Linked DNA regions of Homo sapiens: all the other regions are linked to region 1. The links come from fine-mapping of genetic effects on gene expression. A gene starts in region 1. Each other region holds a variant in brackets. All regions are shown on one strand. Distances are from middle to middle.

Region 1 (5,000 bases):
CACAGGCCACTTAGGCTTGCTTGCCCTGAGGTGAAATTGTTCTGGAACTCTGGGATTTCAACTCTTATATTTCTGCCTGTGTTTTGGAAGTGTTTTCCCCGCTCATTTTCTCCATCAGACAGTGTCATTTATTGTAGCTGCCAACATAAAATGACAACTGTCTCCACTTGTCAGCTGCTCTCATCATCTGGTTTGCTGTGTGCTTTGGAAGGCAGATGACCAAGCATGTATGAACTAGGCACAAGAGTATATGAACTCAGCACAGAGAAGACAGCTGAGGATATTTCCTGTAGAGTAGCATGCATGAACTTTATAAGGTATTTGGCCACTTAGGTATTTTTCTTTTTTTTTTTTCGTGATAGGGTCCCACTCTGTCACCCAGGCTGGAGTGCAGTGGCACAGTCATGGCTCACTGCAGTCTTGACCTCCCCAGCTCAAGGAATCCTCTCACCTCAGCCTCCTGAGTCCCTGGAATTACAGATGCATTCTGCCATAACTGGCTACTTTTTTCTATATTTTGTAGAGACAGGGTCTCACTATGTTGCCTAGGCTGACCTTAAACTCCTAGGCCCAAGTGATCCTCCCACCTCAGCCTCCCAAAGTGCTGGGATTATAGGTGTGAGCCACTGTGCCCGGCCGGTATTTTTCATTTGGAGGTTTATAATTGCATTCCAGAGTTTTAACTCTACTGGAAAGCTAACACAATGTTCCAACACAAATCTGTCTCGCATACTAGTTAGTGTCTTTGAGGTTCCATCACAGACAAATGACGGAAGAAAGCAAAACTGTTTAGGAAGGTCTAAATTAAACATTCTATAATAAAGGCATTAGCATTTGACAAGTCCCTGGTATCTAATACTTTATAAGATGACAATGAGCCTTTTTTACCCCTAGTTAGGGGATTAAGTTCTAGGAGAAGAAGTTAACCAGGTGGTTCCTTAAGTAAGTAATCTTTTGACTACTTAGGGATTGATTTTGTTTTCCCATAATGAAAATGAATTCTGTTTTCCTTCATTTACTTGACTTTAGTGATCTCTGAAAACTAAGATAAAATATACTCGGCCTCTGAGGGAATACAACCATAATGTACAGAAGACAAAATAGATACTCTAAAGATTTTAAATGGAACATCTTGGGATTTGAGAAATTAAAGGCAGTGAAAATCATACTGCTTCTAAGCACTTTTTATTCTCCCTATAGGAAAGCAGGGTAGATAATCCTGATGGGTTGGATTTCAATTAATTGGTGAATAGAAGGTAAAATGATCAAGAAACAGATATCATAATTATAGGAGAAAATAGCAGGAGCTTTTTGTTTTAAAGGAAATAAAGAATAGAATTCACAGTGAAGAGAGACAGAACAAAATCTGATAATTCTAGACTCACTTGAGTGCCGCAAGTATCCTGATCAGGGAAAACAGTTGTGCCTACACATGGGTCCTGGAAAGGCTTCTCCCCGGAACCACCTAAGTGAAATAAAAACTGATTTCTGACTGTTTCAGGATGGCAACACAGACCTTTAGGATAATAACCCACATTCTTTTGGGCAACTCTAATCAAGTGATGCCTCCTTAAGGATACAGAGTTAGTCCCCAGCTCACGTAAGGCACAATACCAAAGAACAATGAGCCATCATGAAATCGTCATTGTTTCATACTTGGTTTTTGTGTAGAATGTTCTCCAAATCATTGTCTCTGACGTTTCCTTCCTCTTGGGTATGACTGTGGTGACGTCAGGAGACGAGCTAAAGGGACCTCCTGGATCTCACAGGGAAACTCTTTCCCTCCAGTATCACGCTAAATTGTTCCTCAGTGCAGATGAAATTCTTAAATGGTTTCATCTGAATGTGAGGTTTTGGGATGACTTACTGTGGTCAGAGCTGTTCCCGGCTGCTCCAGTTGTGGGAGGTCATCAATCCCACAGTTCTGACCTCCTGGCTCAGAGACGTCACCGTGGAGACACCTGGCTGCTATTGTGACACGCAGGAGGTCAGCTGGCTCCTGCTAGTGGGCATTTACACTGCCCACCCTGCCAGCTTCACAGGCCCACACTGCACAGGCATTTAGACGTTACAGGGTAGCCCAAGCTCCCAAAGCTGTGGAAAGGAAAGGGAGCTATCTATTGGCCTTTGAGAACTCAAAACCCATGTTGCTGGGGGCCACTCAGATTGGGTACAAATGTGTCATCAAATTCAGTTTTGAAACTGTCTGAGTAGCTTCTTTACCCACAGATTTTGATTCTATTCACTACTCAATACTGAAAAGAGAAATTGATCTCTCAAATAGACAAAGATAAATTTGTATGGAAACAACAGGAAATTCCATATTACATACGTTTATGTCAACTGGGTTTGTGATTAAATTACTTTTTCTTTTATTTTAGTTGACATGTAATAATTATAAATATTGGCTGGGCGGGGTGGCTCATGCCTGTAATTCCAGCACTTTGGGAGGCCGAGGTGGGAGGATCATTTGAGCTCAGGAGTTCAAGACCAGTCTTGGCAACATGGCAAAACCCCATCTCTATGAAAAATGCAAATATTAGATGCGTGTGGCAGTGCACACCTGTAGTCCCAGCTGCTCAGGAAGCTGAAGTGGGAGGATCATCTGAGCCGGGGGAGGTTGAAGCTGCAGTGAGCTGTGATTGCACCACTGCACTCCAGCCTGGGCAACAGAGTGAGACCTTGTCTCAAAAAATAAACAATAAAAAATTGCAGATATTTATGGGATGTAATTAAATTTTTATATGACAGATTAACATCAATTTTGCCCTGTATTCTCATGGATCTCAATGCCCTAGCTTTGTACATTTAGCTTTTCTTTTTTTTTTGAGACAGATTCTCACTCTGTTGCCCAGGCTGGAGTGCAGTGGCGTGATCTCGGCTCACTGCAACCTCCACCTCCCGGGTTCAAGAAATTCTCCTGCCTCAGCCTCCCAAGTAGCTGGGATTACAGGTGCCCACCACCATGCCCGAATAATTTTTGTATTTTAGTACAGATGGGGTTTCACCACGTTGGCCAGGCTGGTCTTGAACTCCTGACCTCAAGTGATCCATCTGCCTCGGCCTCTCAAAGTGCTGGGATTACAGGCATGATCCCCTGCGCTGGCCTAGCATTTTGTTGTTTTTATTAATTCAGATCATTAATTAAAGCCAAACTCCATTTTTGTAATTATTTATTTCTTTTTTTTTTGATACAGAGTCTCTCTCTGTTGCCCAGGCTGGTGTGATCTCAGCTCACTGCAACCTCTGCCTCTCTGGTTCAAGCGATTCTTCTGCCTCAGCCTCCCAAGTAGCTGGGATTACAGGCACGCGCCACCATGCTCGGCTAATTTTTATATTTTTAGTAGAGACGGGGTTTCACCATGTTAGCCAGGATGGTCTCGATCTCCTGACTTCGTAATCTGCCCACCTTGGCCTCCCAAAGTGCTGGGATTACAGGCATGAGCCAACGCACCCGGCCTATTTTTGATTTTTAAATTGTTTCATAGGACATGGGCAGACTCCTTTGTATAGGTCACATTTTTTTCTTGGTAACGTGTGATGTCTAAGCACTTTCTAGTGTCACCCCGCATATCCTGAAAGTTCTTCAGCACTATTCCTTGCTTCTTCGTCCTCATCCTATGTCACTGGTTCTTTTTTTGTTTTTGAGACAGGGGTCTCATTATGTTACCCAGGCTGGTCTCGAACTATGGGCTCAAGAGATCCTCCTGCCTCAGCCTCCCAAGTGGTTGGGACTGCAGGAGCTCGCTACTGCACCTGACTTCTAACATTTTGGCTTGTGGGCAGGTGTCTTCATGGCATTTTGCTCAAGCATCTTACCAAGGGTCTGATACCAGAATTTACATAGATTCAGAATCAGCGATTGAATGGTTACAAGGTTACTGCAAAATGTATGAAGAACATTTTATTTAGTTACGTATTTGTTTATTTTTTAGTTCTTTTTTTAGAGACAGTCTTGCACTGTTACCCACCCTGGAGTCCAGTGATGCAATCATGGCTCACTGCATGCCCCACCATACTTGGTTAATGTTCTAAAAAAATGTTTGTAGACGTTGGGGGAGGGTCTCACTGTGTTGCCTAGGCTGATCTTGAACTCCTGGCCTCAAGTGAGCTGGGAGCACCTTGGCCTCCCAAAGTGCTGGGATTACAGGGGTGAGCCATTGTGCCCTTCCTGAAGAACATTTTAAAAGAACAAATCCGAGAAGTTTCTCCAGTGCCTATGACATTGACCAGTTGCTTGGTGTATTAGTCTGTTTTCATGCTGCTGATAAAGACCGTGGCTGGGCACAGTGGCTCATGCCTCTAATCCTAGCACTTTGGGAGGCTGAGGTCAGGAGTTCGAGACCACCCTGGCCAACATGGCAAAACCCTGTCTCTACTAAAAATAGAAAAATTAGCTGGGCATGGTCGTGGGTGCCTGTAGTCCCAGCTACTTGGGAGGCTGAGGCAGGAGAATCACTGAACCCAGGAGGTGGAGGTTGCAGTGAGCCGAGATTGTGCCACTGTACTCCAGCCTGGGTGACAGAGCAAGACTTGGTCTCAAAAAAAAAAAAGAAAAAAAAAAAGACATACCTGAGACTGGGTAATTTATAAAGAAAAAGAGGTTTAATGGACTCACAGTTCCATGTGGCTGGGGAGGCCTCATAGTCATGGTGGAAAGCAAAAGATACATCTTACATGGTGGCAGGCAAGAGAGAATGAGAACCAAGTGAAAGGAGAAACCTCTTATAAAATCGTCAGATCTCGTGAGGCTTATTCACTACCACAAGAACAGTATGAGGGAAACTGCCCCCATGGTTCAAATATCTCCTACCGGGTCCCTTTCACAACACACGGGAATTATGGGAGCTACAATTCAAGATGAAATTTGGGTGGGGACACAGGCAAACCATATCACTTGGTTTTTTGGAAGGTGCCAGCAGACCTGACTGCACTGGCTGATCCTTGGGCATTCCAAACCTACACCAAAGACAGGATTTAGGGGAATATACATTGATTTC
Region 2 (11,177 bases), 44 kb before region 1:
TTCATTAGTAAAAGCAAGAAGGTTTCCACATGAAGCTACACTAATCATTTTGAATCAAATATTTACTGGTACTTACAGGATCCTGGAGAAAAAGTAAAACAAAATTTACGATCTCATTTAGAATTCCTTCCATTTGCTGGTGGCACCCTTCACCAATGGCAGATAAGGCCATCAATCCTGCATGCCGGTATTTCCAGTCAGCTACCGAAAAAAATTACAGATGGAATAGCAATTACACACTATAAACATGTCATTCTGGTAGAGGGAGATGTATAAAAGTTCTTATTTGGAAAAGAGTAACAAAACTTTTTTGAAAAGGGTATATGTATATATAATATAAAAACATTTGTATAGGCCGGGCGCGGTGGCTCGCGCCTGTAATCCCAGCACTTTGGGAGTCTGAGGCGGGCGGATCACAAGGTCAGGAGATCGAGACCATCCTGGTTAACGTGGTGAAACCCCGTCTCTACTTAAAAATACAAAAAATTAGCCGGGCACGGTGGCAGGCGCCTGTATTCCCAGCTACTCGGGAGGCTGAGGCAGGAGAATGGTGTGAACCCGGGGGGGCGGAGCTTGCAGTGAGCCGAGATCGCGCCACTGCACTCTGGTCTGGGCGAAAGAGCGAGACTCTGTCTCAAAAAAAAAACAGAAACAAACAAACAAAAAAAACAAAAAACAAAACATTTGTATATTTACTTTTTAGAAAAATGAACAGAAAAAGTGCGTGACTACTTGATTCTAAAAGTATGTATCAGGCCAGGCGCGGTGGCTCACACCTGTAATCCCAGCACTTTGGGAGGTTGAGGCGGGTGGATCACTTAAAGTCAGGAGTTCAAGACCAGCCTGGCCAACATGGCGAAACCCCGTCTCTACTAAAAATACAAAAATTAGGCCGGGTGCAGTGGCTCATGCCTGTAATCCCAGCATTTTGGGAGGCCAGGGTGGGCGGATCACTTGAGGTTAGGAGTTTGAGACCAGCCTGGCCAACATGGAGAAACTCCATCTCCACTAAAAGTACAAAAATTAGCTGGGTGTGGTGGTGTATGCCTGTAATCCCAGCTACTTGGGAGGCAGAGACAGGAGAATTGCTTGAAACTGGGAGGTGAACATTGTAGTGAGCCAAGATTGCACCACTGCACTCCAGCCTGTTTGACAGAGTGGGATTCTGTCTCGAAATAGCTGGGCGTGGTGGCATGTGCCTGTAGTCCCAGCTACTCAGGAGGCTAGGGCAGGAGAATCGCTTGAATCCAGTGGGTGGAGGCTGCGGTGAGCTGAGATCACATTACCCTGGGCAACAGAGCGAGATTCCACCAAAAAACAAACAAATTTCTAACTTAATACTTCTGAATTTTAATTTAACAAAAGAACACATTAACTTTATAATTAAAAAACACAAATGAAAATAAAACACATACAACAATAAACTTTGGGATTGATATATATATTACAGGTACAAAGGTAACTGAAATATTCATAGAAATAAAAAGGAAGGATGGCCAGGTGTGGTAGCTCATGCCTATAATCTAAGCACTCTGGGAGGCTGAAGCAGGAGGACTGCTTGAGGCCAGGAGTTTGAGACCAGCCTGGGCAACATGGCGAAATCCTGTGTCAACAACAACAGCTGCCCTCCAGGGCAGGTGGGCTTCCACCATCACCTCCGTCAGGGGCAAAAACAGAAAGAAAGAAGTGGTTTCTCTTTTGATAACATTAGATAGAGTTTCTTCTTTTAAAAATAAAAGATATTGGGTGAAAGAAGAGTATATGATTCAAACATTCTAATATTCCATAAAAATTCAAATAATAACATCATTTTCAAATTCAAATCTAAATACTTTTGGCTAGGAAGTAAATCTGTACATTTTCTTTGGGATTGACAATTTTATCGGTAAAATAAATGAATTGGGTTAAATATGGATGATAAAAAGACAAAGATTAATTTTTAACAGTCTAAACATATCTTAGAATTTAAGCTTTAGAAAGGGCACAACTTCACTCTTCTAGCATTTGAAGGACACAGCTTACGATTTTGAAGCATTTGCATAATGTGTTCCTTGATCATCGGCAGAACGAGCTTTCCACCAAGTCCGCAAGCCATTCGATCTAGAGCACTCTCGCCTGCAACTGCATTGCTAAACACATAAACAGAATTATGTACTCAATATATCTGAAACACAAAAGAAATAGTATACTCTACAGACATACTTCTAACCATATTATTATTAAACTAAGACTGAGAAAGAATTCAAGCTGTCTTTAAATGTGGAATTGAAATTAGGGGTTAAAAACTCTGCAGCTTAGAAAAGAAAAAAGAGTAAATGTTTTTATCATGATCCACCATAGTTTAGAAAGTCATGCCTGATTCTTATTTTTCTTTTTTTTTTTTGAGACAGAGTCTCGCTCTGTCACCCAGGCTGGAGCGCAGTGGCACGATCTCGGCTCACTGCAAGCTCCGCCTCCCAGCTTCATGCTATTCTCCTACCTCAGCCTCCCGAGTAGCTGGGACTACAGGTGCCCGCCACCACGCCTGGCTAATTTTTTTGTAGTTTTAGTAGAGACGGGGTTTCACCATGTTAGCCAGGATTGTCTTGATCTCCTGACTTTGTGATGCGCCCGCCTGGGCCTCCCAAAATGCTAAGATTACAGGCGTGAGCCACTGTGCCCAGCCTGAATCTTATTTTTCAAGACCACCCCCACCCGCTACTGGCTAAAAACTGTTCTCAGAAATAGCTTCTGACACTTTCAACACTCCAGTAAAAGCAGTATTGAAAGAGCCTCATGTATTTCATTTCCTAGAAATACAGTCTTCAAACCTATCAATGAACAGAACATAGAAAACTGAAAAGGGTGCAGAGAATGTATAATCTTCCCCACTGTGAGTTTATTCACCCTTAAAGGGGTGCAAACTGCACTGCCAAAAACTATGCATAGCTATGTGAAACTCAATTCTATTGTCTTCTCTGAAAGCCAAAGGAATGTGGGCATAAAAGCATTTGGACTTATCCTGGCTTAGAACTGGAGGATCAGTAGTGTATTTCATGTGCATTATCTTTACTATGTAAAGACAATACTATAAAAATGAAACTATAAATTATCTTCAGAACAGGTTTTTAGACTTAAAAAAATCTCACCCTGAAAATATATTTATGCTGTTTCACAAATGAGAAAATCTTATTCATCTAGTTTAGAAAACAAAGTTTCTTAAACTGTATAAATTTAAGTGCCATTTGCAGGGCAAATGAAAGGACAGGTAGCAGCACATTACAGTAACTGAACCAAAAAGGAAATTCGACCTAGCCCTGGTCTTCTCTTCAGCCGTTATCAGGTGATTTCCAGTGAAAGATTACTTTCATATACTTCAAGACAGTATTAAAGCCAGAAATCAGTCATTTTTAACAATGGGATTAAGTCTCAAAAATGCATATATATTCTAAAGCCAAAAATCTTTAATTTTTACTTTTATTAACCTAGTAGTTTATACTGACTCCAAGTCTTTCAGGAGAATAATTTCAGCTTTTTATTTTTTTTGAGATGGAGTCTTGCTCTGTTGCCCAGGCTGTAGCGCAATGACGTGATCTCAGCTCACTGCAACCTCCACCTCCCAGGTTCAAGAGATTCTCCTCGCTTAGCTTCCCGAGTAGCTGGCATTATAGGTGTCTGCCACCAGGCCCGGCTAATTTTTGTATTTTTAATAGAGACGGGGTTTCAACATGTTGGTCAGGCTGGTCTCGAACTCCTGACCTCAGGTGATCTGCCTGCCTCTGCCCACCAAAGTGCTGGGATTACAGGTGTGAGCCACTGCACCCAGCCAATTTCAGCTTTTTTAAAGAAAAGGTGGTAGTATAATGCACTGGGAAGAATGAAAACAATGGTAATTAACCCCAGTCCATTAACTGGCTACATAACCTCAGACAAATCACTCAATCTTCAATCTCCCTTTCTGCAACTGTAATATAATACACCTCTGGGACTGCTAATAAAGTTGATTAAAGTAACAGAGCTCAGAGGTGCTATGTTTCACATACATGTAAGGGGCCATCATTACTACTGCACAGTGAATACAGATTTTGGTTGACTTTTCCTGTATTCATGGGACTTCCTAAGCTGAAATAAATAAGTACAATAGTAATACTCTACCCAGTTGACTCTCATCTTTTCACCACTGGATGCTGCCTATCCTAAAGTTAAACTGCTTTTTACTAGGAAAATATGATGTGTATTGCAGGGAATTTTGTTGAAACAATTATTCTAAGGGAAGTCTCTGCCTGTAAAAGCATTTATCACAAAAAAGCTGCTTTATACACGTTTTAAAAGATATTCAAACTAAAAACAAAAACAAAAACAACAAAAAACTTGGAAATAATTTAGAGTACGACAGTTAAAAACATAGATACTTGGCCAGGTGCGGTGGCTCACGCCTGTAATCCCAGCACTTTGGGAGGCCGAGGCGGGCGGATCATGATGTCAGGAGATCGAGACTATCCTGGCTAACATGGTGAAATCCCGTCTCTACTAAAAATACAAAAAATTAGCTGGACGTGGTGGCAGGTGCCTGTAGTCCCAGCTACTCGGGAGGCTGAGGCAGGAGAATGGCGTGAACCCCGGAGGCGGAGCTTGCGGTGAGCCGAGATCGCGCCACTGCACTCCAGCCTGGGCGACACAGCGAGACTCCGTCTCAAAACCAAACAAAAAACATAGCTACTTTATTTGCTGTTTTCATGTCATACTTTTTTTTAAAAAAGAAAAACTTCCTTGTTTGTTGTTGTAGGTATCTTTCAGTTCCTGATTATAAAATACAACTTTATGTATTAACTATTAAAATATTTTTATGAACTTCCAAGAAACATAAATTTTATTAATATAAATTATACATGAAAACTAAAGAAAATACTACTTATAA[C/A]ATGTGACACAGCAATAAATACAACAGCAAGGCAAAGTGCCCCATATTCCAGGCTTAAAAGTTTACCTTCAGGTTACAGGGTGCAATAGTGAAGAGATGGACCGTGGAGCCCTAGGGCTTTCACTGCCACCCTGGACACAATGTTTGATTACCTGTCAAAATCATCATCTTCTAGTTCATCTGCATTTGCCCAGTCCTCATCTTCTTCCAAATCAACCATCATTGCTAACATCTGAGGAACTAAAGTAAACAATTATTTCATACCCGAAGACTGTGACTTTATCTTATCCATATCACTATTTATAAACAAGAATTTTAAGATTTTACTTTGCCTGTAAGAGAACAAGACAAAACAATTATTTGTCTGTGCCCCCAAAACCTGGTTTGTTAAATTTTAACCTTGTTATATTTGCTTTTATCGTTTCTTTAAAAAGCAACATTCATTAAGTCAAACCCTCCTATGAAATTCCCAAATCCGATTACATTCTCCCCATCACCAGAGGTAAGAAGCAACATCACAAATGTTTCTCATTCCGCAATTGTTTTTTCACACTTGAACTACAGATTTCCATATCTCTATACAAAATTATAGTACTATTTCAAGATTTGATTTTTTATATAATAAATGGTTTCATAATATATGTACCTCGGCAATTTGCTTTTTTCTCAACACATAAGGATTTCAGTTTATTTAATAGCATTCCATTATATAAACATACTACCCACTGTCTAGCTGATAAACATTTTGGTTGTTTCCAATTTTTTCCTCCTATAAAATTTGCTTTGATGAGATTATTACATCTTTTCTTTGACAAGCATGAGTCTAGGCATGAAATTGTTATTACTATCTTCAAATAGTACTAAAAAATTATCAAACAAGTCTAGGCGCGGTGGCTTATGCCTGTAATCCCAGCACTTTGGGAGGCTGAGGCAGGCGGATCACGAGGTCAGAAGATCGAGACCATCCTGGCTAACATGGTGAAACCCCAAAAACAAAAAAATTAGCCGGGTGTGGTGGCGAGCACCTGTAGTCCTAGCTACTCAGGAGGCTTAGGCAGGAGAATGGCGTGAACCTGGGAGGTGGAGCTCGCTGTGAGCCAAGATCACACCACTGCACTCCAGCCTGGACGACAGAGCGAGACTCTGTCTAAAAAAAGAAAAAAAGAAAATTACCAAACAAGCTGCGCTCTGCACAGCTGTTGCATAAACTATGTGAAGTTTAAGTGGAGGTCTCCGTTATTTCACAAAAATGTGTGAAGTGCCCTGGGGGTGGAATAAGCGTCCTCTCAGTTCCACATCTTTTATTAACAATTGATACTGTCAAACTTCTGGACAACTTGTATTCCACAATTACACTTGTTTTTATTGAGACTTAGCAGGGTTCATTAGCTATTTCAGATCCCTCTTTTACGAATTTCCTGACTGGGCCTGCTGGTGCACACCTGTTATCCCAGCACTTCGGGAGGCTTAGGTGGGAGGATCCCTTGAGCCCAGGAGTTCAAGACCAGCCTGGGCAACATGGTAAAACCCTATCTCTACCAAAAAACACAAAAATTAGCCAGGTGTGGTAGTGCGTGCCTGTAGTCCCAGCTACTTGGGAGGCTGCAGTGAGCTGAGATCATGTCACTGCACTCTAGCCTGGATGACAGAGCAAGACCCCATCTTAAAGAAGAAAAAAGCAATGAATTTCCTCTTCTCAGCCTTTGTGTATTCTCTAGATAACAAAACTGTTGATTGTGTGCACTGTAATTATTTTCTTCCAGTTTGTGGCTTATTTTTTCAGTTCATTTATGGTGTATCTGATTGGTCAAAAAATTGTTTTCGCATTTGCCAATTTGGCAATGTTTACATCAATGGTTTGTGATTCAGTCTTAGAAAATTATCTACTATTAAGCATTACTTGTAAAATATATCTGTAATATTTAGCCCTTAACTTTTTTAACTAGTTCCAGCGTGCAAGGTAATATTCAGGTCTTGAGTAGACCCCAAATTATTATTATTATTATTATTATTTTTGAGACAGAGTCTTGCTCTGTTGCCCAGGCTGCAGTGCAGTGGCGGTATCTCGGCTCACTGCAAGCTCTGCCTCCCGGGTCACGCCATTCTCCTGCCTCGGCCTCCCGAGAAGCTGGGACTACAGGCGCCCGCCACCACGCCCGGCTAATTTTTTGCATTTTTTAGTAGGGACGGGGTTTCACAGTGTTAGCCAGGATGGTCTTGATCTCCTGACCTCGTGATCCACCTGCCTCGGCCTCCCAAAGTGCTGAGATTGCAGGTGTGAGCCACCGCGCCCGGCCTGTTTTTTTAATAAGCTGTCTAGAGTTGGAATTTTTTTCCCCATAGAAATAACCAGTTATATTCTCAACTCATAAGTGGGAGCTGAGCTATGAGGATGCAAAGGTGTAAGAATGATACAACGGACTTTGGGGACTCAGGGGAAAGGGTGGGAGGGGAGTGAGGGATAAAAGACTACACAATGGGTACAGTGTACACTGCTCCCGTAATGGGTGCACCAAAATCACAGAAATCACCACTAAACCAAACACCACCTGTTCCCCATAAACCTATTAAACAAACAAAAAAAAAAAAAACAAAGAAAGAAAGAATGAAAGAAAGATATCCCAGAAACTTTTTTTTTTTTTTTTTGAGACAGGGTCTCACTCCGTCACCCAGGCCGGAGTGCAATGGTGCAATCTTGGCTCACGGCAGCCTTGACCTCTTGGGCTCAAGCAATCCTCCATCTCAGCCTCCTGAGTAGCTGGAACCACAGGCGTGTGCCACCATGCCCGACTAATTTTTGTATTTTTGGCAGAGAAAGGGTTTCGTCATGTCGCCCAGGCTGGTCTCAAACTCAGCAGCTCACATAATTTACCCACCTTGGCTTTCCAAATTGCTGGAATTACAGGCCTGAGCCAGTATGCCTGGCCCCAAGAACTTTTGATCAATTATCTTTTTAAAAATGGCTTTGTTCCCATGTGAGCGGATCTTCTCCTACACTCTACCCTTTGTTCCATCCGATCCATTGTCAACACCTGCATCATCAATGCATTCTAAATTCACAGAGTTGATGAAACAAGATCTCCACTTTATTCGTCAAAATTGTCTTGGCTACTCCAGGCCCTATGTTCTTTCAGAAGAATTTCAGGATTGTTCTATCATAACCCTAGATTAATTTGAGAACTGATAATTTGTTCTTCTATTAGTCTTTCAATATGTTATTCAACTTTCCCATATGTCTTGTACATCTTTTGATTTATTCCCAGTTACTATAACTCATGCCTATAAAATTTTCTAAATGATTATTATGAATAATGGAACACTTACAATAAAATGTTCTCATATCTAAGGATCTTGCTTAACCCTTTGATTAGCAGTTTATCTGTTGAGTCTTTAAAACTTTTTGTAGACAATAACCACATAGCCTACAAATAAGCAATATTTTTGTTTTCTAATTCTTTTTTTTGAGACGAGTTTCGCTCTTGTTGCCCAGGCTGGAGTGCAATGGCATGGTCTGGGCTCACTGCAACCTCCACCTCCCGGGTTCAAGCAATTCTCCTGCCTCAGCCTCCCGAGTAGCTGGGATTACCGGTGTGCACCACCACATCTGGCTAATTTTTTGTATTTTTAGTAGAAACGGGGTTTTAGCATGTTAGCCAGGCTGGTCTTGAACTCCTGACTTCAGGTGATCTGCCCGCCTCGGCCTCCCAAAGTGTTGGGATTACAGGCATGAGCCACTGCACCCAGCCATTGTTTCTAATGCTTATAACTTATTTTTATCTCTTAATGCATCAGCTGGGGCAGTCAGTACAACATGAACAGTGATAAAGGAGATATTTTTCTTGTTCCTGACTTAAATGGGAATGTTTCTAAAATTCCAACCACTACCTCAGTGTAAGACAAAAGGTAGGTACCACTACAAAATAAATCTGGTGACGTATTTACCCTCTAAATTAAGTGTTCAAGTACTCATTAGCTCATTAAGAAATGGCTAGGCCAGAAAATGATCAGGTTAGTTCTCAAGTCCTTATCCCAGCACAATGAAACTTAAAGTAGTATTTCCATAGCACAATAGCCATTTAAGTTTCTGCTGCAACGAGGGTCTATAAAACAAAAGCAATGTAATATAGTGAACAGAGCCATGACTAGTGTTAGACCTTGTTCTTCTAATCTTGGCTTCACTGGTAAGCAAGACATGCTATTTTGGTTTGTAGTTCGCTACTGTGCATCTATATATCCCCGCTGAATTGTTTTTGACTCTATTAACTGTGCCCAATATTAACATATAAATGATAGAGTCTGTCACACTCCACTCTAGAAATGTTATTTTTAACACCAGATTTCAGGGTGTCTGCAAAGTCTTAAAGGCATAACCACAATGTGGGGGTCCACGCTTGCATGTATTGAGATGCATTTTCCCAAATTCATCTGATTCTAAAAGGATATTCATTATATTCTCAACAATCTGAGAAATCACACAACCCTCAGCAAATTTATCCAAAAATTTGGCCACAATACACATAAACTATCTGAAGACCATTGACTTACTAGTCTGTGCAACAATATTGGTATGTTTTCTTAACATAGCAGCTGCAGTCTCAGAGAGGGTGACGATCACTTCAAGGGCAAGCTGGCGTTGCATATTGTTGAGGCTAGTGTCTCCACACAACTACAAAGAAGACATATTTGTATACATTTAATAATTTAGATTAGTCCCTGAAAATAACAAACAGAACGTTTACTAACGTACTTAATTTACCTTTAGACTTAGCTGTAGAGTTGCTTCCAAGTGAGGACGCAAATACTTTGGAACAGTATCTGCAATCTCAACGAGGGATTTTAGGACAGAATCATCATTCTGGTAGCACGAGTCATTTACCGCCTAGAAAAGATGAAACAGAAAGTCGGTGCTGAAGATTCACTTTATAATGCCTCATTAGCCAAAAGATTCCTAAGATGCTGACAATAGAGAAATATTACTAAACTATTTTTCACTAAATAATTTAGCAATCTATATTATGCAAATGTTCTACCTGCAGGCACATGTATACCTTCCTTCTGATGGATGTTAACTAGAAACATTCAAAACAGATTTACATCTAAGTCAAAATGAAAATCAGTGAAACTATAATAACCATTACAATACTTAAGGCTACCAAGGAATTACTTTTTTTTATAACCAGGAGTCCCTTTCCTTTGTCCTTTTATTTTTTCAGTGATAAGGTCTCGCTCTGTCGCCCAGGCTGGAGTGTGGTGGCACAATCATAGCTCACAGTACCCTCCAACTCTTGTGCCTCAGACTCCTGAGTAGCCAGGACAACATGTGTGGCCACCACACCTGGCTCTTCTGTCCTTTCTTATATCCATGCCCTAGTTTTTCTCATACGCATAGTAAGTACTAGAACCTGTAATACATTTAAAGTGTCCAATATTACCCATTTTATTTATCTTGGATGTTAAGTCTGGTCACTGTGGTATTAAAGTATGCATTTTGTGTTTATCATTATCTATTTCAGAATAACAACTCTTAAAAGTTGTGGTAAACATTTTAACTTACTCTAAATCCAGAGGAAGAAAACCGGGATTAGATTTCAACAGTAACTAGAGATTTCAGATAATAAACTACTAAAGCAATAGTATGTTACAATTTATGTTCTGTCACGAAACTATCTTTTCATTGTGATAGCAGGGGGAGAGAAGTTTCACTAAATCCTTTAAATAACTTATCATGTGGAAACCTTCAATTTTAGCTCCTCTAAATCCTCTCTAACTCAGTGGTTCTCAAGAGGAATGGTTTTCACCCAGGAGATATTTCTTGATGGTCACACGATTGAGGATGGGCAAAGGCCATGGATACTAAATGTCCTGCACCTGTGACACAAGCACAAGGGACTTACATGATCTTCTCATTATGCATTTCACATTATTACAAATCCCAGACATTTATAAAAAGGAGAAAACTCTTTATAATGATCTGAACCTAGAAACTAACTCACAAATTATTTTTTGCCTGGTTTTAACAACTGTTATCCCCCCCTCCAATGTAACTACTGTATCAATCAAGAATGGATACATACAGGTGGAACATCCCAAATCCAAAATGCTCTGAAATCCTCAACTTTTTGAACACAGACACGTCACTCAAAGGAAATGCGCATTTGAGTATTTCGGATTTCTGACTTGAGATGCTCAACTGGTAAGTATAACACAAATACAGTGTTTCAAAATTTGAAAAGATTTTGAGATCCGAAACACTTCTACTCCCAAGCATTCTGAATAAGAG
Region 3 (11,177 bases), 77 kb before region 1:
ATGGGGCTGCCCTTTTGCTCTAAAGAAAACCACCACACGGCCACATATTTTGGCACACACAAGTTTTTTTTTCTTTCCCCCAGAGACAGAGTCTTGCTCTGTTGCCCAGGCTAAAGTGCAATAGCACAATCATAGCTCACTGCAGCCTTGAACTCCTGGGTTCAAGCAACCTTCTCGCCTCAGCCTCTCAAGTAGTTGAGGTAACAGGTGCGCACCCCCATGTCTGCCTTTGGTTATACAGAGAAATCAATAAATTGAGCATTCTTTTTGCCCACTTTGAGTGGGAGAGCTAAATGCATTAAAATGGATAGTAATGGCAAAAGACATAATTGAGCAAGTCCAGAGTTATGTCAAAATGACGGGTTTCATCATGCATAAAGGCTATCATTCTCTCCATGGGCATGTGCCACATTTATAACAATATAAAAAGTATTCACCATATGGAACATGCATTCTTCTTCAGAAATGTGTTAAGTACATAGAGCTAGCTTAACCTGTATTTTAGGGTAACAGTTCTTTTTTTCATATTTTCTAATATTTATCCTCAATGTTTCCCTTAATCCTACTATGTTATTATTTGTGGTCCTAAAACTCTCAAGGTTTCTCCAAATTCTTACTCATTTGCTTACCATATTGTAGCAGGCCATAATTCTAGTGGGAATATGTGGAATCTGGAATCTCAATATTGCCTTAAGTTTGGGTGCCGTGGCTCATGCCGATAATTCTAGCACTTTGGGGGCTGAGGTGGGAGCATTGCTTGAGGCCAGGAGTTTGAGACCAATCTGGGCAACACGGCGAGATTCCATCTCTACAAAAAATGAAAAAATTATCTGGGTGTGTCGCTACATGCCTGTAATCCTAGCTGCTGGGAGGCTGAGGTGGAAGGATGGCTTGAACCCAGGAGTTTGAGGCTACAGTGAGCTATGATTGCACCACTCCAGACTTGGGTGACAGAGTGAGATCCTATCTCTTAAAAAAAAAAAGTATGGGTGTGGTGGCTCACGGCCACAATCCCAGCACTTTGGGAGGCCAAAGTAGGTAGATCACTTGAGTCCAGGAGTTCGAGACCAGCCCAGGTAACATAGTGAGAAACGCTGTCTCTACAGAAAGCATAAAAAATGAGCAGGGCGTGGTGGTGCACCTGTAGTCTGAGCTATCTGGGAGGCTGAGGTGGGAAGATTACCTGGGCCTGGGAGGTCGAGGCTGCAGTGAGCTGTGTTCACGCTACTGCACTCCAGCCTGGGTGATAGAGTGAGACCCTGTCTCAAAAGAAAAAAGAAAAAGGCACTTAAAAAATAACACTAGATAATCAAATAGCTATTAATTATTTGTCACGTTAATGACTGCATTTATTTGGCACTGAATGTATAGAAAGGTTTCTAAAGTATCTCCCAATTAAAAATACTTTCAGGCCAGGTGTGGTGGCTCATGCCTATAATTCCAGCACTTTGGGAGGCTGAGGCGGGTGTATTGCTTGAGCCCAGGAGTTCAAGATTAGCCTGAGCAACATACTGAGACCCCTGTCTCTACAAAAAACAAAAAAAAATTAGCCGGGGGATGTGGCCATGCCTGTAGTCTCAGCTACTCGGGAAGCTGAGGTGGGGGAACCGTTTGAGCCCGGGCTTATAGACATTGCAGTGAGCGGAGGTCGTGCCACCACACTCCAGCCTGGGTGACAGTGAGACCCTGTTTCAAAAAACAACAACAAAAATTTCAAAATAACTTTAATTAAATAATAGCTCAGACCTCAAGCCTTACCAATTTTATGTTGTTAGTGAGATTATTTTCCCCAACAAGGGAGGGGGATCAGAAGAGACAGTACAAACGCACTAATGATTAACCCAGGACGGGCTTCGTGGGAGACACACTAATAATTAACCCAGGATGGCTCTGTTAGAGAATCATTTGTACCTTTCTTGCCCCTAGGGTTCTATTGTTCATGATGAGCTTCATTCTCACCTGTCTGCCCTCTGAATTCAGTTGAGCATGGAAGGATGAAGGCAGGGCCCTGACCAGCAGCTGAAACGGCAGCCGCGCCGTACACCTGGAGAGAAGTCCTCAGCTTTGACGCATTTCTCATCTAATTGGTATATTCTTTAGAAATGCTTCCACATAAGCATTTTTCCCTCAGATGGTGAAGCTCCAGAAGCCGTCGTTCTCTAACTTTTTAAAGCAGTGAGTGATGCTCCTCTGCTGCCCCCTCAAGGTTCTCAGTTTTCTCCAGAGAGAGGCTTATTTATTTATTTATTTATTTATTTGTTTAGTTTTGAGACGGAGTCTTGCTCTGCTGCCCAGGCTGGAATGCAGTGGCGCCATCTCAGCTCACTGCAACCTCCAATTCCCAGGGTTCAACCAATTCACCAGCTTCAGCCTCCTGAGTAGCTGGGATTACAGGTGCCTGGCACCACATCCAGCTAATTTTTGTATTTTCAGTGGAGACGGGGTTTCACCATGTTGGCCAGGCTGGTCTCAAACTCCTGGGCTCAAGTGATCTGCCTGCCTCAGCCTCCCAAAGTGCTGGGATTACAGGCGTGAACCACTGCGCCTGGCCAGAGAGACACATTTTTATTTTTATTTATTTTTTTTGAGACGGAGTCTCGCTCTATCGCCCAGGCTGGAGTGCAGTGGCGCCATCTCGGCTCACTGCAAACTCTGTCTCCCGGGTTCACGCCATTTTCCTGCCTCAGCCTCCTGAGTAGCTGGGACTACAGGCGCCCGCCACCACGCCTGGCTAATTTTTTTTTTATTTTTAGTAGAGACGGGGTTTCACCATGTTAGCCAGGATGGTCTTGATCTCCTGACCTTGTGATCCGCCCGTCTCAGCCTCCCGAAGTGTTGGGAATACAGGCGTGAGCCACCGCGCCCGGCTGAGACACATTTTTAAATAACCAAAAAGGCCATTCAAAATACAATATGAAAACCACACATAAGCTGCTCAGAATACAAACTATTGATAGTCTGAATTATGAAAAAAACCCAGTAATAAGACTTTCCATATACTGATTTTGTGGGGTGGCAATTGTCTTTCCTGTAGCATAATTCAGGGATGATGAATCCTTAAAATATATAATAAAAAACACATTTTGCATTTTCAGATAAAAGAGCAAAACTTTTAAAATATAATGTTCTTAGGTTTTAAGATAATCACAGTATAAATCAGTCACCACAAATTCCATTTATTATTTTACTGTGTACACTATCAACCTTTCTGTTACATTTTTGTTCTGAGATAAAATAACTTAGTAGACACCGTAGATGCTAATTTTTAGAAATTGCGAAACTCTCCTTTTCTTAAGGGAATGGAGATGTAAGGTACAAGGGCCAGGCAGGCCTTCTGCTGGCTCAGCACAGCACAGGGCGTCTGCCCGTGGTTCCCAGGCCTTCTGCATTCCTGTCCACACTCAATTCTCTCAGCAACCATACCAAGGAGGCGTTTCTCCATTTCCCAATGAGTGAACTGAGGCAGAAAATGATGTTAAGTCCACTTTCCAAATCCAGAGATTTGGAAATAGAGAATATACATGCAATTCAAATTCAGGCTGGGGCCAGGCGCGGTGGCTCACGCCTGTAATCCTAGCACTCTGAGAGGCCGAGGTGGGCAGATTGCCTGAGCTCAGAAGTTCGAGACCAGCCTGGGCAACATGGTGAAACCCCGTCTCTACTAAAGTATAAAAAATAAGCTGGGCGTGGCGGCATGTGCCTGTAGTTCCAGCTAGTTGGAAGGCTGAGGCAGGAGAATCACTTGAATCTGGGAGGCGGAGGTTGCAGTGAGCCGAGATTGTGCCACTGCACTCCAGCCTGGGTGACAAAGCAAGACTCCATCTCAAAAAAAAAAAAAAAAAAAAAGAACAACAACAAAAGAAATGACTTTTGAGCCAGGCTGGGGTGAAAGAGAATAGTGGGGCCAATTTACCAAACATTAATTTGCCAAAAGCTATGTTACTAAAAGATCGATTTGCCCACTATCCATGATCTGAATTCACCAAATGAACTGATTAACTAAAACTTGTTATAATGAATTCATTTCTTGAAAATATTAAATGAACATTTCCTCCTTGAATACATTGTTTTCTTCTTACGAGTATGTTAAGGAATGTTTAACTTGTCAAAACTGAGGATCACAGAGTAAAAAATGTATTTTTCTTATTAATTTACTCATAAAAATATACACATCGAATACACTAAATAAATTGTTGTGTACATTTAGTATCTGTCAAGATTTAATCAGAAAAACAGAGACCATACTAGGTATTTCAAACAGGGATTTAATAGAGCAAACTGGTCATACAGATGTTAGAAGGATGAGAGAGAGAGAGAAAAATAAAAGAGAGGCAACATATTCAGCCTTAAAAAGAAAGTTCTGACCCATCCTGTAACAGGATGAACCTTGAGGACATAATGCTGCGTGAAATAAGGCAGACACGAAGAGACAGATACCGTATGCTTCCACTTAACGCGAGGTATCTGGAGTAGGCAAACTCACAGAGACAGAAAGTAGAATGGGGGCTGCCAGGAGCCTGGGTGGTGGGTGGGAAGTTACTGTTTAATGGGGAGAGTTGGCAGAGACAGATTCTTCTTGCTGACTGAGCCTTGTTCATCCAGTCCCACAGAGTCATTGTATCTCTTTAAACTAAGTAGAACAAAACTTCTGAGAGACATATTTGCATGGCTACCCTCCGCCAAGAAAAAGGATTTCCTGAACTTCCATCATCAGTATCATCTGCATGATTTTTGCCACGTCCTCAGAACTGTAGCTCTGTTTACATTACATTAAAAATAAATCAACTCACTGACTTTTATTTTTTTTGAAGTGTTTGAAAAGAAAATTTTAAATCATTACTACAAACGAAAAACTGGTATTTGTTTTTGTTTTGGAGACAAGAGTCTCACTCTGTCACCCAGGCTGGAGTGCAGTGGTACAATCATAGCTTACTGCAGCCTGGAACTCCTGGGCTCAAGCAATCCTCCCACCTCAGCCTCCCAAAATGCTGGGACTACAGGGCTACAGGGATGAGCCACCGAGCCTGACTCATTTGTCATAAATAGAAGGTAACCATAAAATAAATGTTAAAAACAGAACAATGTTATTACATTTAAAAAAATAAGCAATTGTTATAATTTATAAAAACGCATACTTGAAAATATGCTCCCCAATGAGAATAGAACTTCATATGCTGAATTGTACTAAAGGAGACTTGGCCCAATGCCACTTAGTTTAAGATGAAATGAGGTTCTAACTCAGTATGGTGATGCTATTCTCAACATTTTGATGATCACCAGCACTGGCCATACTAATTTATAGGTTGTCATTTATTGAAAAGGGCAAAAGATATTTAACTTCCATCTTTTTTTTTTTTTGTATTTTTTTTTAGTAGAGACGGGGTTTCACCATGTTAGCTAGGATGGTCTCGATCTCCTGACTTCGTGATCCACCCGCCTTGGCCTCCCAAAGTGCTGGGATTACAGGCGTGAGCCACCGCGCCCCGCCAACTTTCATCTTTAACAGGGTTAAATTTTGAGAATTCCCAGCTAAAATGATTTAACTTTTATTCTGAAAAGCCTCCTGAATATTTATATCCCTAGAACGATACATAAGAATTGATCATCTTTCCTTATGGGAGGACGTTTTAAAAAAAACCCTTTTCAGATAATTTAGTCAAGAGTGTTATAAATTTACTTAAATTTCAAAGATTTTGTTGTAGAGATATTTTAGAGGCAAAAAATAAATGTAGTTAATCATTGTTGACTTTTTTTTTTTTTTTTTTTTTTTGAGACGGAGTCTTGCTCTGTCTGTCGCCCAGGCTG[T/G]AGTGCAGTGGCGCGATCTCGGCTCACTGCAAGCTCCGCCTCCCGGGTTCACGCCATTCTCCTGCCTCAGGCTCCCAAGTAGCTGGGACTATAGGCGCCTGCCACCACGCCCGGCTAATTTTTTGTATTTTTAGTAGAGACGGGGTTTCACTGTGTTAGCCAGGATGGTCCTGATCTCCTGACCTCGTGATCCGCCCGCCTCGGCCTCCCAAAGTGCTGGGATTACAGGCGTGAGCCACCGCGCCCGGCCTCATTGTTGACTTATATAATGTCTGGTTAAAGAATTCAGGTTGGGTTAACCAGGTGGGCAGTTGGTTTCTTAGAATAGTTCCTACCCATCAGAAAGACATGTAGGCATTTCATTAATTTCCTTCCAGAAGGAGGTCTCTGCCCATCGCCAGTCTCCACATTAGTGTTGCTGTTTTGTATTTTTATTCTTCTTGAAATATCAGCTACAATGTGAGCCTTTGTTTTTTGGCTATTGACCATTTGTAATAATGGCAGCCTTTTCCCATGAGAACCAATTGGAGAACACTCAAGATAGTGATGGGCTATATTTTTCTTCAAACACATCTATCTTCTTTGACCCTTCAGTAATAAACTGTACATTCTTTTTCAAATTAGAAAATGCAATAGGGTCCTAACTGCTTAAATATTTTCACTTTCAATATTTCTTAATCAAAAGGGACTTTATTTAAATGGCTTTTTTTTTTTTTTTTGAGACAGGGTCTCACTCTGTCACCCAGGCTGGAGTGCAGTGATGCAATCATGGCTCAGTGCAGCTTCAGCCTCCCAGGCTCAAGCTATCCTACCACCTTAGCCTCCCAAGTAGCTGGGACTACACACCTGAACGACCATGCCTATTTTTTTTTGCATTTTTAGTAGAGATGGGGTTTCTCCATGTTGCCTAGGCTGGTCTTGAACTCCTGGGCTCAAATGATTCACCTACCTCAGCTTCCCAAAATGTTGCGATTACAGGTGTGAGCCACTGCGCCCAGCCTCAATGGCTAAATTCTTTTTTTTTGTTTGAGACGGGGTCTCGCTCTGTCACCCAGGCTGGAGTGCAGTGGTGATCTTGGCTCACTGCAACCTCCGCCTCCTAGGTTCAAGAAATTCTCCTGCCTTGGCCTCCCGCCACGCCCAGCTAATTTTTGTATTTTTAGTAGAGACGGGGGTTTCACCATATTGGCCAGGGTGGCCTCGAACTCTTGACCTTGTGATCCACCCACCTTGGTCTCCCAAAGTGCTGGGATGACAGGCATTAGCCACTGGGCCGGCTGGCTAAATTCTTAAAACTAGATAAAACATGCCAGTTAATCCCTAAATCATAGAAGATTTGAGAAAATTCAGGAGTGTGATTAAGCAGCAGCAGCACACTCGGGACAGAAACAGACACACCAAACAAGACCACATACCCCATTAGGAGATTTCTAGGAACGGATGAAACAAGACAGTAACTGCTCTGGGGGTTGGGGCCAACTTTCTAAATGGCTACAAATAATCTGGCAGGTTTTCTTCATTGCCAACCCAATTGTCAGTTAATTGAAAGGGGACTATCTCATAGCAATACTGCCCCTAGGAAGGATCTGGGTTTGGGTGTAAGGCAGTTTGGGAGACCAAAACTTCCTGCTTGCCTGTCTGGCTCCTTCACCCTCCAAGGGAGCACATCCGGTGACCTGTCTGGTCACAAATGCCCCACTCTGGGTCACCTCTGCAGCAGCCCAAGAACAACCAATTGTGAGTAGCAAGGCTGGAAAATGCATCACCTGGGGAGGGATTTCTCAATGACCAGGAGCACATGTATTTTTATCTTTGGTGCAGTTTGCTATAATGCTGAAACTGAGGCAGCTCAATGCACATCCTATTTGCAATATTAAGTGAATTTACTTCTTTGATTTCTTCATCAAAGGGTACACCCAGTGCACCCTTTACTTTTCCTTAATGATGTGTCCCCTGTAGCAGAGACCATGTGTTTTACTCAGCCCTTTATTATGCAAGCCTAACGTAGTTTTGGTCAATAGCTTAATAAAAGTCAATCAAATTCTTGATTAGCAAGTACTTCCGTTTTCCATGGTTTGCATGTTTTATGCCATAGGTAACTAATTTGAAAATTGTCAGAATCAAAATGGAGTCAGTCACTAGGCCAGACTCGGTGGCTCACTCTGTACTCCCAGCACTTTGGGAGGTCAAGGTAGCTGGATCATCTGATGTTGGAAGTTCGAGATCAGCCTGGACAACACAGTGAAACCCCGTCTCTACTAAAAATACAAAAATTAGCCGGGCATGGCGGCACATGCCTGTAATCCCAGCTACTCACGAGGCTGGGGCAGGAGAATCACTTGAACCCGGGAGGTGGGGGTTACCGTGAGCCAAGATTGCGCCACTGCACTCCAGCCTGGGTGACAGAGCAAGACTCCGTCTCAAAAAAAAAAGGAGTCACTAATGTTAAGAACACCCGGACAAACAGCTAGAAAGGTCATAGAGGGTTCTCATGTTTGTACGCATGATGACAAAGACCACAAAAATCACAACTTTGCACAAAGGCCTTTGCAACCTCACACAAAAAATACTTCTGCAAGCACACATCCAACTGCTTGTCAACCTTGGACTGGCATCACCCTTGTTACTGACCTGTGCAGTCAGGGATAATTATCTCAAAACAACGATGTAATCCTCATTTCTTCCTTTATAAACCTTTCTCTTTTCGCCTGTAATCTCAGCACTTTGGGAAGCTGAAGCAGGACTACTTGAGCCCAGGAGTTCAAGAGCAGTCTGGGTAACATAGGGAGACTCTGTCATCACAAAATTAAACAAAACCAAAAAAACCCACAAAAACCTTTTTTTCCCTCAATATACTCATCATCTATGATGGCATGTACATTCCCATTGCAATGCTCTACTCCCAAATAAACGTTTTCTTTTTGAGATCCTCTTTTAGGTTGACACTAACAAAAAGAAATGCTATCCAAATGTACTTCCATCTCTTCAGCATGTGTACTCATAATATCAAATCTACAATGCTAGGCACTGCTCTAGGTGCTTTATACATATATTAAGCCTTACAACAACCCTGTGTGGTAGCCGTTAACTTTATGTAAGAGATTAAGGAGCTCCCGCAAGGGGCCACAGCCAGGCAGGAAGTGTGACCCCAGGGGGCAAAGCTTTCCAGCTGTCCACTCCTGTACAATGGCCTTGACAGTGATCTCATCCTACATAGATGCCAGATTCATGTGAGCATGGGGGCAAAAGTCCCTGGTGACCTACAGTTCAGTGTACCGAACAAACCAGCTCTTGCAGCAAACTGAATGTCTTCTCCAAACAGGGACAGACTGCTGCTTTTTAGGGTGGAGCTCCAGATGAGGCAATGGGTGCATTTAGGGCCATGTCTTATGCAGATCAGGCATCTTCAAACACCAGAATCACAGTGTCAAGAAAGTAAAATAGTCCACATACACCACGTTTATGGCACAACTTCACTGACTTTGCAAAGTTTCCCAATATTTTCCACAACTTTCTAGGCTTCCTCCTAATGCCAAGGCTGATTAGAGAACTTGAAAAAAAAAAAAAGTTTGCAGCTGGGCACCGTGGCTCACACCTGTAATCCCATCACTTTGGGAGGCCGAGGCAGGCAGATCACGAGGTCAAGAGACCATCCTCACCAACATGGTGAAACCCTGTCTCTACTAAAAATACAAACATTAGCTGGGCATGGTGGCTCACACCTGTAGTCCCAGCTACTCGGGAAGCTGTGGCACGAGAATCACTTGAACCTGGGAGGCATCTCACTTGAACCTGGGAGGCAGAGGTTGCAGTGATCCGAGATCGCGCCACTGCACTCCAGCCTGGTGACAGAGGGAGACTCCATCTCAAAAAAAAAAAAAAAAAAAAAGTTTGCTTAAATTATCTGTAAGTATTAATAGAATTTAGGTGTAATTCTGATAGCTAATGCTTAATGTGCCTGGCTTCTAAATCCATCTGAACCCTCTATAAGGTATGTACTATTATTGTTCCCATTTTACAGAGAAGGAAACTAAGGCATACAGAGGTTAGGTAAGCTGAGTACATGGTAGACTGGGATTTTTTAACTGACACAGTGATTTGATTCAGAGGTCAGCAGCTATGGCTAGCCTCTTTTGTCAAGTTTCACTGGGATACAGCCAAACCCGTTTGTTTACTATGGTCCATGACTGCTTTCGCACTGCAACGGCTAAGCAGTTTGTGAGACCCTATAACTTGCAAACACATACTTGTTCGGTGACGAGTGCTAAAATATTTACTATCTCGAACTTAGAGAACACATTTGCCAACCTCTGGTCTTAACCATACAGCACCATGGTCTTTTATGGTGCACCTTAGGATCACAGGAGCAAGTTGTCGGGCTGATCCAAACTCTTACATTTTCTACCCATCTGTTACAAAACTTTTAGGGGAAATAGGGGAACTAATTTCTGATTCATATCAAGTGGCACTATTCTGGTTTCCATTACAATCTGAATGCTAGTCAAGAGGACAGAAATGATAGATCAATCAAAAGGAAATACACAATGAAAGCTCCTGAATCATGAAAGAACAGATTTCATAATTATACTCTGCTGCCTTAGTGGAATTTAGAAAAAATTTTTTGTAATGTTTTACAAAAAATTATATTGTACCACTTTTGGATTCATTGAGAAGTGAATAATATAGCTATAATTTATCTTTAAAATGTTTGTATTCATCCAAATATAATAAATACATAGAAATAATCAGCCCAAATGTTGTCTGGCATACACTGTAAGGGTTACAGCTGTGTGGGGAAAAAAGGGTTTAAGTCTAGGGCAGGATGTTGTTAGAATTAACCCCTGCTCCTCAGCACCACCATTCAGAAGTTCCAAGTGCTGGAAATAAATATTCATGCTTCCTCCCAAGTGTGATGTGCATACATTGTGGATCATTCACTTTCTTCTTCTAATAGTGGTACTCATACTTTTAGGGCCGAGAAAGAAAATCTGCTTAGGAATAGCAAACATGGCAGGTTTTGGCTGTTAATCTTTTGTGGCAAAGAAGGTTAAGAGAAGCAAAGTGATTTCGTTTTTTTTTTTTTATTTTTATTTGAGATGGAGTCTCACCCAGTTGCCCAGGCTGGAGTGCAATGGCACAATCTCGGCTCACTGCAACCTCTGCCTCCCAGGTTCAAGTGATTCTCCTGCCTCGGCCTCTGGAGTAGCTATGATTACAGGTGCCTGCCACCACACCTGGCTACTTTTTGTATTTTTAGTAGAGATGTGGTTTCACCATGTTGGCCAGGCTGGTCTCCAACTCCTGACCTCAGGTGATCCGCCTGCCTTGGCCTCCCAAAGTGCTGGGATTACAGGCGTGAGCCACCGCGCCCG

The links. PIP is the estimated chance that this variant, and not a neighbour inherited with it, causes the effect. A credible set is the group of variants that fine-mapping cannot tell apart.
Region 2: its variant is the best candidate, but not a certain one, in a credible set for the expression of IPO5 in whole blood (TOPMed, PIP 0.77).
Region 3: its variant is the best candidate, but not a certain one, in a credible set for the expression of IPO5 in fibroblasts (GTEx, PIP 0.82).

Annotation. Positions count from the first base shown.
Region 1 is chr13:97,950,584-97,955,583 of GRCh38, reverse strand. It overlaps IPO5 (importin 5), which reads right to left and starts at 1,909. Exons shown (of 29, transcript NM_002271.6): 1 at 1,868-1,909; 2 at 1,386-1,465.
Region 2 is chr13:97,991,491-98,002,667 of GRCh38, reverse strand. It overlaps IPO5 (importin 5), which reads right to left. Exons shown (of 29, transcript NM_002271.6): 10 at 9,654-9,776; 11 at 9,443-9,563; 12 at 5,050-5,137; 13 at 2,023-2,129; 14 at 77-201. Among named protein-coding and RNA genes, the nearest start is that of IPO5, 43 kb to the right of the region's middle. The variant C/A (reference allele first, on the strand shown) is at 4,898.
Region 3 is chr13:98,024,499-98,035,675 of GRCh38, reverse strand. No RefSeq gene overlaps it. Among named protein-coding and RNA genes, the nearest start is that of IPO5, 76 kb to the right of the region's middle. The variant T/G (reference allele first, on the strand shown) is at 5,806.